Linked DNA regions of Homo sapiens. The protein of the gene in region 1 interacts with the protein of each later gene in a pairwise test. Each region holds a gene or a part of one and is shown on either strand. Other genes may lie near its edges. The genes, in order: AIRIM, RUSC1 and C1orf94.

Region 1 (3,821 bases):
AAAGAACACCAAGTACCAACGCAGGGCTCTGAACTTTATCCCATTAGCAACAGGAGCTATTCCTATACAGTACAGAACAATTCTGATCCTAACTATCAGGATCAGAACCAGACTTCCTGCAGATATAGAGGTCATTCATTGGAGTCAGCTTAGAAGGAAAGAAACTAGACAGAGAAAACTGTCAAGAGGCAATTAAGAGTCCAAGTGAGAGCTAAGAAGCCATGTAAGCAACAGAGGGGATGGGGACAGAGAGGGAAAATCAAAGAAGCACCAGGGAAACAGAAGGAAAGGACTTGACAAGTGACTGTGTAAACATTCTAGCACATAGCAAGTGCTTAGTAATGTCAGCCGCAGCTCTTGCTCCTTCTGCCCATGCTCCTGTTGCTGTTACTACTACTGCTACCAATGCATTTAAAAGGGAAAATAAGCCGGGCGCGGTGGCTCGAGCCTGTAATCTCAGCACTTTGGGAGGCCTGAGGTCAGGAGTTTCAGATCAGCCTAGCCAACATGGTGAAACCGCCTCTCTACTAAAAGTACAAAAATTAGCCAGGCGTGGTGGCAGGTGTCTGTAATCTCAGCTACTTGGGAGGCTGAGGCAGGAGAATTGCTTGAACTCGGGAGGTGGAGGTTGCAGTGAGCCAAGATCGTGCCATTGCACCCCAGTCTGGGCAACAAGAGCAAAACTCTGTCTCAAAAAATAAATAAATAAAAGAGAAAACAGGGTGGGTTCTACGACTCAAGGAAAAGGGGGCTGAATTTGAGGGCTAGATTGAGGAGTTCAATTTTAAACTTGAGTTTGCAGTTCTAAGAACAATCCAGTTGGAGGCATCTGCAGGAAACCAAAAGTCAAGACCAGAGACAAGAAAAGTTGGGGTTTGGGAATTATTCACATGAAGGCAGAAACCTAAGCTAGAGGCTAAAATCAGGTGTCAGACAAGAATTGAGAGAAGACCAGGCATGGTGGCTCACACCGGTACTCTTAGCACTTTGGGAAGCCAAGGAGGTAGGATCATCAAGGCCAGGAGTTCAAGACCAGCCTGGTCAACACAGCAAGACCCCATCTCCTAGGCAAAAAAAAAATTTTTTTGAGAGAAAAATGTTAGAGCTTCAACTAACTGGTCTTTCTGCTTTTACCCTTGCCCCCACTACCCCAAATCTTACCCTAGAACGAAGCCAGAATGATACTGTTAAAAACATAGGTCTTATCCTGTTACTCCTTAATCAAGTTTCTAAGAGGTTTTTCTGTCACTCGAATGCTTTTTTTTGGGGGGGGGGGGTGGGCGGGGGGTGGTTTGAGACAGGGTCTTGCTCTGTCACCTAGGCTGGTGATCACACCCAGGCTGGCAATCAAGGCTCACTGCAGCCTTGACCTCCCACGCTCAAGCAACCCTCCCACCTCAGCCTCCTGAGTAGCTGGGACTATAGCTGCACACCATCATGCCTGGCCCAAAATTCTTTTTTTTTTTTTTGGAGACAGAGTTTCACTTTATCACCCAGGCTGGAGTGCAGTGGCACGATCTCAGCTCACTGCAGCCTTGACCTCCCCCAGTTCAAGCAATCCTCCAGCTTCACCCTCCCGAGTAGCTGGGATTACAGACTTCAGGCACATACCACCATGCCTGGCTAATTTTTGTATTTTTTGTAGAGACGGCGTTTCACCATGTTGCCCAGGCTGGTCTCAAACTCTCGGGCTCAAGCAGTCCTCCCACCTCAGCTTCCCAAAGGGCTGGGATTACAGGTGTGAGCCACCACGCCCAGACCCCAAATTCTTTCAAAGACCTTCAAGGCCCTAGAAAGTCGAGCCCCCTGTCTTTCTACCCTCACCTGCTGTTAGGCTCCTCCTCATGCTCCAGTCTAGCCTCCTTACTATTTCCTGAATAGACCAGGAATGTTCTTACCACAAGGCCTTTGCATTTGATGTTTCCTCTGCCTAGTAACTTTCTCTCCCCAAATAGCCACATAGCTCTTTCCCTTACCCTCTTCAGATCTCTGCTCAAATATCACTTTCTCATGAAGCCTGCTCTGACCACCCTATTTTAAATCACAACTCCACCCTCACTCCTCACTTTCCCTGCTTTATTTTTCTCCATAACACTTATCGCCATTCAGCATTCTACTTGCCTTTTTCAATGCCTGTCTCTTTGCACCAAGAACAGTGCCTGACAGGTAGTAGCTACTCGATAAATTATTAGAGGAAGGATTATACAAAGGAATGCAGGAAGAATCCAAGTTCAGGAACCAAAGAGAACTGACTCAAACTACTTAGTTTTCCAATCTTGTGAAAACTGAAATTTGAAAGACTTAGAACAGCTCTGGCTGTGACCTGAAATGTGTGCAAAGGATACGACTTTCGATAATGTCTCTCAATATCCTGCAACCATTCCAACATGTCAGCCACAGAGGGGCTCACTGCTGAAGGCTGCAGGACAGCATCAATGCCAACTGTGTCTGCGTGTTGCTCATAGATCTGAAACACTCGCTCCACATGGCTGCTGACCATGTCTCGCACCTTGAGGAGGATGGCTCTGCAAGAAAGAGTCTGACATTAGGCAATATCATGAGACATGTATAAAGGAAGGTTTCTCAATTTTGGCACTACTGATATTTTGGACTACATGATTCTCTGTTGTGAAGGGCTGCCCTGTACATTGTAGGACGTGTAGGAGCATGCCTGGCCCCTACCCACTAAATGACAGGTGTAAACTATACCTATACCCTCCATAAGCCATAACAACCAATAATGCCTCTAGATGATGCCAAATGTCCCCTCATAGAAAAACCATCTCCAATTGAGACCACTGGTCTAAGGAGATTAGTGACAGTGTCTTGGAGGTACGGGTGGCTCAAGAATCAAGAAAGGGGCTGGGTGCAGAGGCTGTTGCCTGTAATCCCAGCTTTGGGAGGCTGAGCGGGGTGGATCACCTGAGGTCAGGAGTTTGAGACCAGCCAATGTCCCAAAACCCCGTCTCTACTAAATATACAAAAATTAGCCAGGTGTGGTGGTGCACACCTGTAGACCCAGCTACTCGGGAGGCACGAGAATCACTTGAACCCAGAGGCAGAGGTTGCAGTGAGCCAAGTTCGCGTCACTGCACTTCAACCTGGGTGACAGAGCGAGACTCCGTCTCAAAAGTGTGTGTGTGTGTGTGTGTGTGTGTGTGTGTGTGTGTGTGTGTGTGTGTGTATAGTTTTTGTTTTTGTTTTTTGTTTTTTTATTGAGATGGAGTTTCGTTCTTGTCGCCCAGGCTGGAGTGCAATGGTGCGATCTTGGCTCACCACAACCTCTGGCTCCCGGGTTCAAGTGATTCTCCTGCCTCAGCCTCCTGAGTAGCTGGGATTACAGGCATGCGCCACCACACCCGGCTAATTTTGTATTTTTTTTTCAGTAGAGACGGGGTTTCTCCATGTTGGTCAGGCTGGTCTCGAACTCCCGACCTCAGGTGATCCACCTACCTCGGCCTCCCAAAGTGTTAGGATTACAGGCATGAGCCACCGTGCCCAGCTAATATATATTTTTTTTTAATTAAAACATTTAAAAAAAAAAACAGGTGCAGTGGCATGCCTGTAATCCCAGTAGTTTGGGAGGGCAAGGCCAGAGGACAGCTTGAAGCCAGGAATTTGAGACCAGCCTGGGCAATATGGCAAGACTATCTCCACAAAAAATTTTAAAAATTAGCTAGGTATGGTGGCATGCTCTTGGAATCCCAGCTACTCAGGAGGCTGGCAGGAGGAGTTAGAGGCTACAGTAAGCTATGATCATACCGCTGCACTTCAGCCTGGGCAACAGGGTGAGACTGTCTCTAAAAATAAAATAAAAATAA
Region 2 (3,600 bases), about 120 Mb from region 1:
GGCTTCGGGACCGGAGTTCCTTGAAGGTGGTGACTTCCCGAGGAGGTGCCGAGGAGCCGCCCGGCGACCCCGAGGGGGGGAGCTCGGTGTCGGGCGAGAAGACTATGAGCCAGTCACTGCGATCTTTCTTCGCCTGCGGGACAAGGGGCAGCCCTGGGCCCCGCTTGCGCTTCTGGGCCAGCTCGTGGAAGGACGTGATTGTCCGGTGGGGCACCGGCTCCTCGCTGACGTCACTTCTCCATCCTCCATCAATTTTCCCTGCATCTGTTTTCGAGCCAGAATCAGTTATTCTTGTGTTGGTTTTCCAACCAGAGTCGAATTTTTCAGGTTCACTTTTCCAGCTAGAGTTAACATTCCCGTTGTTTTTCCAACCAGTGTTATTGTTTTCAGTGGTTTTCCATTCAGCTTTAGTTTTCTCTGTGTCAATTTTCCAAATTGGGTTAATCTTCCAACTGGGCTCCGTTTTCCCAGCGTCGATTTTCCCATCATCCGCCTCTAAGAGCTCAGAGGTAGGGAGATCCTGCTCCGCCCTCTCGTCCTCTTCCTCCAAGCCTGGGGAAGGGACGTCCTGGCAGGTGGTCAGGGCGTTGCAGTTCGAGTCCAGGCCAGGATCGGGTGAAGAAGAAGCTCCGGAGCAGGAATCAGGAGAGCAGCAGAAGCTGTCCGGTGAGCAGGTGCCAGGGCCTGCTGAAGCCAGTGGGGAGCCCTGCTCCAGGGGGATGATACTGGGCTGAGGGTGGGCATCCTCATCACCAGGGAGGTCCCGCAAGTAGACTGAGACAGGGGACTCATCGGGGCTAAGATCTGAGCAGGAGCTGAGTGAGGAGGAGCAGCCTGGGTCTGAGGGAGAGGCAGCCCCCTCTTCCTCCTGTGACGGGTCCTGCCGGTTTTCTAGGCCCGGACCGTGCTCCTGGCAGCACCGGCAGGGCACAGCTGGGCTGTTGGAATTGGCGTCCACCAGGGTGCCACTGCAGGGGCCCCTGCTCTCCTTGCCCCCAGTGTCTCCTGGAGGAGGGGGTGTGCTCAAAGGCCCCTCCTGTAGCTCAGGACGGCGGGACAAGTGCAGGCCCAGGGAGACGTGCTGGAGGTGGATGTGGTTGAGGTTGCAGAGTAAAGCTCTCTGAGGGGACAGCATGATGCTAGCGGCGATGGGATGGCTTCTAGAGAACCAGAAGGGTAGGGTCTCTCACATCCACCTACCTGGCAACCACAGGTGCAGACCTAGAAGACAGAGGTGGTGAAGCCCGGCCAGTGAGGACAAGAGCTGCGGGGAAGGACACCGAGGTGACTTGACGGCAGCAGCAGGCCTGAAGGCTCTGGCTGCTTTGGAAGATATTTCAATGAGATGCAAATCGCAATCGACTGACCATTAGTTTCCACTGCAGTGTTTGCAGATGGAGTCGAATGTAACCCCCCGGGAATGGAGCCGGGAGGGTCAGAGAACGCGGCTGCGCTCTGGATCTCCGAAGGGGGGCGGGGGCCTGGAAGAGGTCCGGGCCCAGAATGGACCTCCAGGTCCCTGCTGCCGCAATCTGGCCCTGCCCTCCAGCCTACCCCTTACTCCCAGAGGAAGGGACCCAGGGAGACCCACCCAGATGCCCTGAAAGGAGGTGGAGGATGGGGGTGGGGCAATACGCAGAGTTTGTCTGGTGAATGCAGGAAAGGGGTGGGGGCTGGAGAGGAAAAGGATGGAGCAGCCGTCAGCTTGTCAACTCCGCATCTGCTGGCTGCCTCGGCCGGGCTCCAGCCTGCGCCCTCGCCCCTCGGAACAGCGGTATGTCCATTCTCTCCGCATTCGTCTCCATCGTTCAGCCACCACCGCACCCTTTCTCTATTCATTTCTCCTGCTCCCTTGTCCTGCCCCGCCCCTCGTGCCCAGGTCCATCGGTCTACACCCATGGGCCGAGCCCTCCTCACCAGGGTCCTCCTGGAACCGCTCCGGCCTTGGGCTTGTCCGCGGCTCCCACGGTCCCCGCCCGGCGGGGCACAGAGCGGGAGGGGAGGGGCACTAGCACAACCTACCCTGCGCTGCGCAGCTGCACCCCTTCGCGCATGGGCGTGGCGTAGCTCAGACCCGCCCCCAGCGTTTAGCGTCTTTTGTCACCCACCTAGAGGGTTTGATATATCCTAAGCTTTTGGCCCCTGGGTCCTGGTTCCGTGCAGCGAGTCCTCCCAGCACCCCACCCTGCACATTCTGGAAAGAGCCAGACTCTGGCTGGGCCGAGCAAGAACAGAACCACAAGAAGGTTACACGATTATTTATTGAGAGCCTCCTCTCCCCGCCCTTGCAATCTCTAGGTCACTTTCTCCGCTTGTAGATTTTGCGCGCAAGCCCCAGAAAGACGGCTGGGGGCAGGGGTGCTGCGTACTGTTCAATGAGAGCCATAATGTGGCTGTAACTGTCTTCCTCATATTGCAAGAACACTGCTGGCAGATCCAGCTCCTCATATAGCGCCTTCACCCGGGCCACTTTCTCAGCCTCCTTCTGCCCGTAATTTTCCTGGAAGAGGTTGAAAGACAGGAAAACGGGCTTGGCCTTCCCCAGAGCCTCCAGGACCCCTCCACTCCCCTCATTCACATATTCCAGAACATCTCCAAAGCCACCCACTCCTTTCCTCCCTCCAATTTTCAAGTGTCTCTACGTAGCTAAAATCCCAAGCTTCCCTTCCCTATCCCAAATATTGCCTCATACCAGGCATCCTCTACTCCAGGGTTTCTCCACCTTGGCACTATTGAAATTTGGGACCAGATAATCCTGTCTGGGGGAGCTGTTCTGTGTACTACATGTTTGGCAACATCTTTGGCTCCTGCCAACTAGATGTCTGTACCACATGCACACACACAGAGTTGTAATGACAATGGCAAAAAATGTCTGCTGACATTGCCAAATGTCCCCTCGGGAGGAAAACTGCCTCTAGTTGAGAACCACTGCTCTATCCCTTTCCACCAACTCAGGGACCCACCACCCTCTCTCAGGCACCTTCAGGATCTGGTACTGTTCTGGAGTGGCCCGTTGCAGACACTGAACCACCAGCCAGCTGCATTTGTTGTCCTGGATGTCAGTGCCAATTTTGCCGGTCACACTGGGGTCCCCAAAGAGGTCAAGGTAATCATCCTGGGCAGGGAGGGGGAGGGCAGCAAAAGAGGAAGGATGAGGTTCCTGGGCAGAGGAGGAGTGAAGCTGGTGCCTGTTCTCTGCTACTGCCTCCTGCCTTCTTACCTGAATCTGAAAGAACTCCCCCATCTCCAGCAGGATCTTCTTGGCATTGGCGTGCTCCTTCTCGCCATCAATTCCTGCCTGCAGGGAAAGGGGGGTTAATAAGCCAAACCCCAGGGGTGCCGGCATCTTCCTGGCTGCTTCCTCCCATGGGGTCTTGCCCTACTGCAGCCCCAAATCTTTCCTCTCTCTTCAGACATCTTGGCTTCCCTGACCTAGACAGTCCTGACTGATGGTCCAACCTCAATCCCACTTATTTTTGGCTAGGCCTTCCTGGGAGTCATAAAAGAGATGAATCCATTCTAGAGGTGCACAGCCTGTCTCTTCCCTCACAAATGTCAGTCCCCAAGTCATTCTGATCCACCTTCCTAATATTTTTGCCA
Region 3 (3,821 bases), 3.5 Mb from region 1:
ACACACCAATGCCAGCTTTCTAAGAGCCTCATTGATTCCTGTGGTATGTAGAGGAGAATGGCCTGGAGGGGTTGGTTCTGGAGGCCATATCCCCTGAAACCCACCGTGAGTTCAGAATGGAGACAAGGAGGTGGTTGCAGCTGGGGGGGACATGAGTGTTTCCTTAAACACCACAAAGGCTGCAGTGTGGGAATGAATGGGGAAGATGCTTTCTTCATTGTTCTGGATGCCTGTGAGGAAAAGTTGTGCAGAGGCACATATGGGTGCATCGTAACTAAGATCTAAACATTGATAATTACATTATAATAATTATGCTGTGAGCATTTCTCGAGGGCCCACTATGCACCCAGCTTGTGCTAAGTGTTTTGTACAACTTATAGAATGCTCACAGTCTGACCTTGACAGATGAGGAATACAAGGTGTAGAAGGCAGCTCTTGAGAGGCAGAGCAGGGATTCACACTCAGCCCCTGGTAGTTCCTGTCTGCTAGCCTGGCTTCAGGTTGGGGAGGGCAGGAGTGACCTCCCAGGTGCTGAGAAGGGACCATCATGGGGTGATTTTTGGTACAGGGATCTCAGGGCCCTGTGGGGCTTCTAGAAGCTACTTTGAGTATGTGCGTGTAATATTTGTATAAAATAAAGCAGAAAGCAAATACAGACAAATAGAATGACTAGTGTGTGATGACCCTATGTAACCATTACCTGGCTTTAGCAATGATTAACATATGGCCAATCTTGTTTCATCTATTACTCCCTCTCTCTTCTTTTCCCTCCTCCTGCTGGATTAATTTTAAAGGCATTCCCCGGCATAATTTTCTCTGTAAATAGTATGTATCGCTAAGAGATAAGGACTCTTTGTTGTTGTTAGGCATAACCACAATACCATTATCACAATTTTTAAAAATTGACCTAATTGTACTGTGTCTTTCTAATTCAGTGAAGCTATTGGTGTATGGCTTGCTTTGCAAAGTATTTGGGGAGGGGAGGCAAAAACTAGTCTGACTCCTGTGACTTGAGACTCACCTGTTCCTTTTGAGGTGGATGAAGAGGAAGAAGAGGAGGGGGATCTAAAACTTGAGACCGCAGATTGGCAGCCCCTTTATTCTGATTGTTCTCAGGGGACTCAGCCGGGAAAGTGAGGCCTATTTATAGGCCTAAGTCTAGACATGGGAAGGAGGCAAAGGAAGGGAATAGGTGACAAGTCAGGGAAAGGGGACAGAAGAGAGAGTGGAGGGAAAGAGAAAATAACAGCAAGTGATCTTGCTGCACACATAGCTCCAGTGGCCCTTCAGGAGCTGGCCGGGACCAGCCCACACTAGCTAATGCTCACAGCTGACACTGACTGAATGTTTCCTGTGCACAGGGCACTGTGCTGAGCTCACGTACCAGTGACCTCGCCCAATGCTCCCAACCATCCCATGAGGCAGGTGATGTTAGGTGTCACACCCATTTTACAGGGGAGGACACTGAGGTTCCAGGGTCCGACATGAAAAGAGCAGTGGTGCCTGGATTCAAACCCAGGTCTGTTTGTCTGGAGTCTGCTTTTTGCAGGCTTTACTCTCTGCCTCCAAGCCTGGTGATGTTCCATGTGGGGGTAGAGAGGCTCATGTTCAAGAAGTACGGCTGTCTTGGCTGCTGGACTATTGGTACATTCCCATGTCTTTAGTACATAGCTCTTCCCCAGGGTCCCCAAGCACCCTGGGCTACCAAGTCTTTGCCTCAGGACTCATCAGGACCCAGCAACTAAAGGTTTCCTGTCTGGCACAATAGGAAGCCTCTAAGACTGTAGACTGTGTCCATTCTGATTGACTGTTAAATGCAGTGACTACTCCCCTGGGTCTGTGTATGGTGACATGTGAATTGTGTGCCTGCCTGTTTCTGTTCGTGGGTGTGTGTGTGTGTGTGTGTGTGTGTGTGTGCGTTTGTACACAATAAGCATTACCAGGAAGGCATGGACCCTGCTGGAAGCATTCCATGGTCACCGTTTTGGAGACTCATCATGCCCTCTGAGAGGCTGGCCAGAGCTGGAACCTGTGCTGGACCTCCAGACTGCAAAGCCTAAGCCACAGCAGCTGAGCTCCCCTATGGGACTCCTTGATTTTTTCCCTTGGGTCTTCATCATCTTCTCCTTCAGCGCTCCCATGATAGAAGGCTGAGTAGTTTCCAGAATGCTTGGTGTGGGCCACCTCATCCACTTCTCATAGGAGCCCCTTGAGTAGGCACAGCAGATGGTTCTAGGCTGGTGGCTCTTGTCCTCCTGGGTGCCTGCTTGCCAAGAGTGCTGGTGAGGTGGGCGGGGCCACCAGCCAGGCCAGTAGGATTGCAATCCTCTCTACACCTGGAGAGAAGTGGCAACGAGGAGCCTAAAAGCCAGGAGACCATCAGGTGCTATCAGACAGGTGCAGACCAGCAAGTGTGCAGCGGAGGACCCAGGGTCCAAGGGGCAGGTTGAGGCCATTATTTAGGTTCAGGAAGATCCTGGTGAATCAGTGCAGGGATCAGTGCAGGGATCTCCCCACTGCTGGTGCTGTACATGAAGGGAGGCCCAGTCCAGAGGCTGTGATCGGGTCAGAGGCCATGCCAGAGTGAACATGAGTATCCAAGAGGCTACCGTATGAGATCCAGGGGCGGGGACCAACTAAGGCTGACAGTGGTGTAAACATGAGAGCTGACCTTTGAATCGCCCTTACTCTATGCCAGACACCATTCAAAGTGCTTTGCACCTCTATGATACTCCTAGTAATGAGAGGAGGAGACAGAATACCAAGATGCTGAACAACCTGCCCAGGGTCACACCGATGGGAGTTGACTGGATCAGGGTGTAAGCTTAGGCTGTCCACTCCACCATTCTGCAGTGAGGTGATGGGGGCTGCGCTACTCTCCTGGGGGCTTCCCAGGGCTCAGCCCCAGCACCCTAGACTCTGCACTTAGAGCTGTTGGCTTGCTCCTGACCCCTTTGCTGCTGGGCAAAATTCCCCAGTGAACCCCTTCTCTGGTCTTTCATTGCTTCAGGTTCTGAGCATGAAGAACAAGGAGGAATGGACTAGAATTAAGGCTCAGTGAGGCTGTGACTTGCCCCAGCTCACTCAGCAAGGTTGTTGGGAGAGGATCCAGGTTTCCCCATTTTTCAAAACCATGCTCTCAGTGCTGCATCCTACCGCTGTGGTATAGGACCCTCTGGGGGTCCAGTGTGTCTGCTGGGTTATCTTGCCTGGAAGTGTGTTTTTGTCATGTTATGCATCCATCTCCCTTTTCTGGGGCCTATGTCCTTCTGCAAAGCCACGCCTTGGTGAGCTGGCACTAACACCGTCTGTCTCTCTGACCCATTTCCAGAGCTCTGGAGCTCAGCAGTGGCAAAGATGAGATCTCCTTGTTGGTGGAACAGGAGTTCCTAAGCCTCACCAAAGAGCACTCGATCCTGGTCGAAGAGAGTTCTGGGGAGCTGGAGGTACCCGGCAGCTCTCCCGAGGGGACCAGAGAGCTGGCTCCCTGCATTCTTGCCCCTCCTCTAGTGGCAGGCAGTAATGAGCGCCCCAGAGCCTCCATCATTGTCGGAGACAAGCTTCTGAAGCAGAAGGTGGCCATGCCCGTTATCAGCAGCAGGCAGGACTGTGATTCTGCCACTTCTACTGTCACAGACATTCTGTGTGCCGCCGAGGTCAAGAGCAGCAAGGGGACAGAGGACAGGGGCCGCATCCTAGGTGACTCCAACTTGCAAGTCAGCAAGCTTCTGTCCCAGTTCCCACTGAAGTCCACTGAGACATCCAAGGTCCCTGACAACAAGAATGTGCTGGACAAGACAAGGGTCACCAAGGACTTCCTA

What was found.
Region 2: the proteins of AIRIM (region 1) and RUSC1 interact in binary tests that used the Homo sapiens proteins (3 or more experiments, as listed by UniProt).
Region 3: the proteins of AIRIM (region 1) and C1orf94 interact in binary tests that used the Homo sapiens proteins (3 or more experiments, as listed by UniProt).

The regions. Positions count from the first base shown.
Region 1 is NC_000001.11:37,683,928-37,687,748, forward strand, and holds part of AIRIM (AFG2-interacting ribosome maturation factor), read right to left. Parts: intron 2,526-3,821; coding exon 2,346-2,525; intron 1-2,345. UniProt on the Homo sapiens protein: Part of the 55LCC heterohexameric ATPase complex which is chromatin-associated and promotes replisome proteostasis to maintain replication fork progression and genome stability.
Region 2 is NC_000001.11:155,319,309-155,322,908, reverse strand, and holds the start of RUSC1 (AP-4 complex accessory subunit RUSC1), read right to left. Parts: upstream 2,016-3,600; 5' UTR 1,918-2,015; exon of another isoform or gene 1,222-1,917; 5' UTR 1,136-1,221; coding exon 1-1,135. Other genes in the region: FDPS (farnesyl pyrophosphate synthase), read right to left, coding at 2,300-2,500, 2,981-3,115, 3,221-3,298. UniProt on the Homo sapiens protein: Associates with the adapter-like complex 4 (AP-4) and may therefore play a role in vesicular trafficking of proteins at the trans-Golgi network. Signaling adapter which plays a role in neuronal differentiation.
Region 3 is NC_000001.11:34,193,894-34,197,714, forward strand, and holds part of C1orf94 (uncharacterized protein C1orf94), read left to right. Parts: intron 1-3,331; coding exon 3,332-3,821.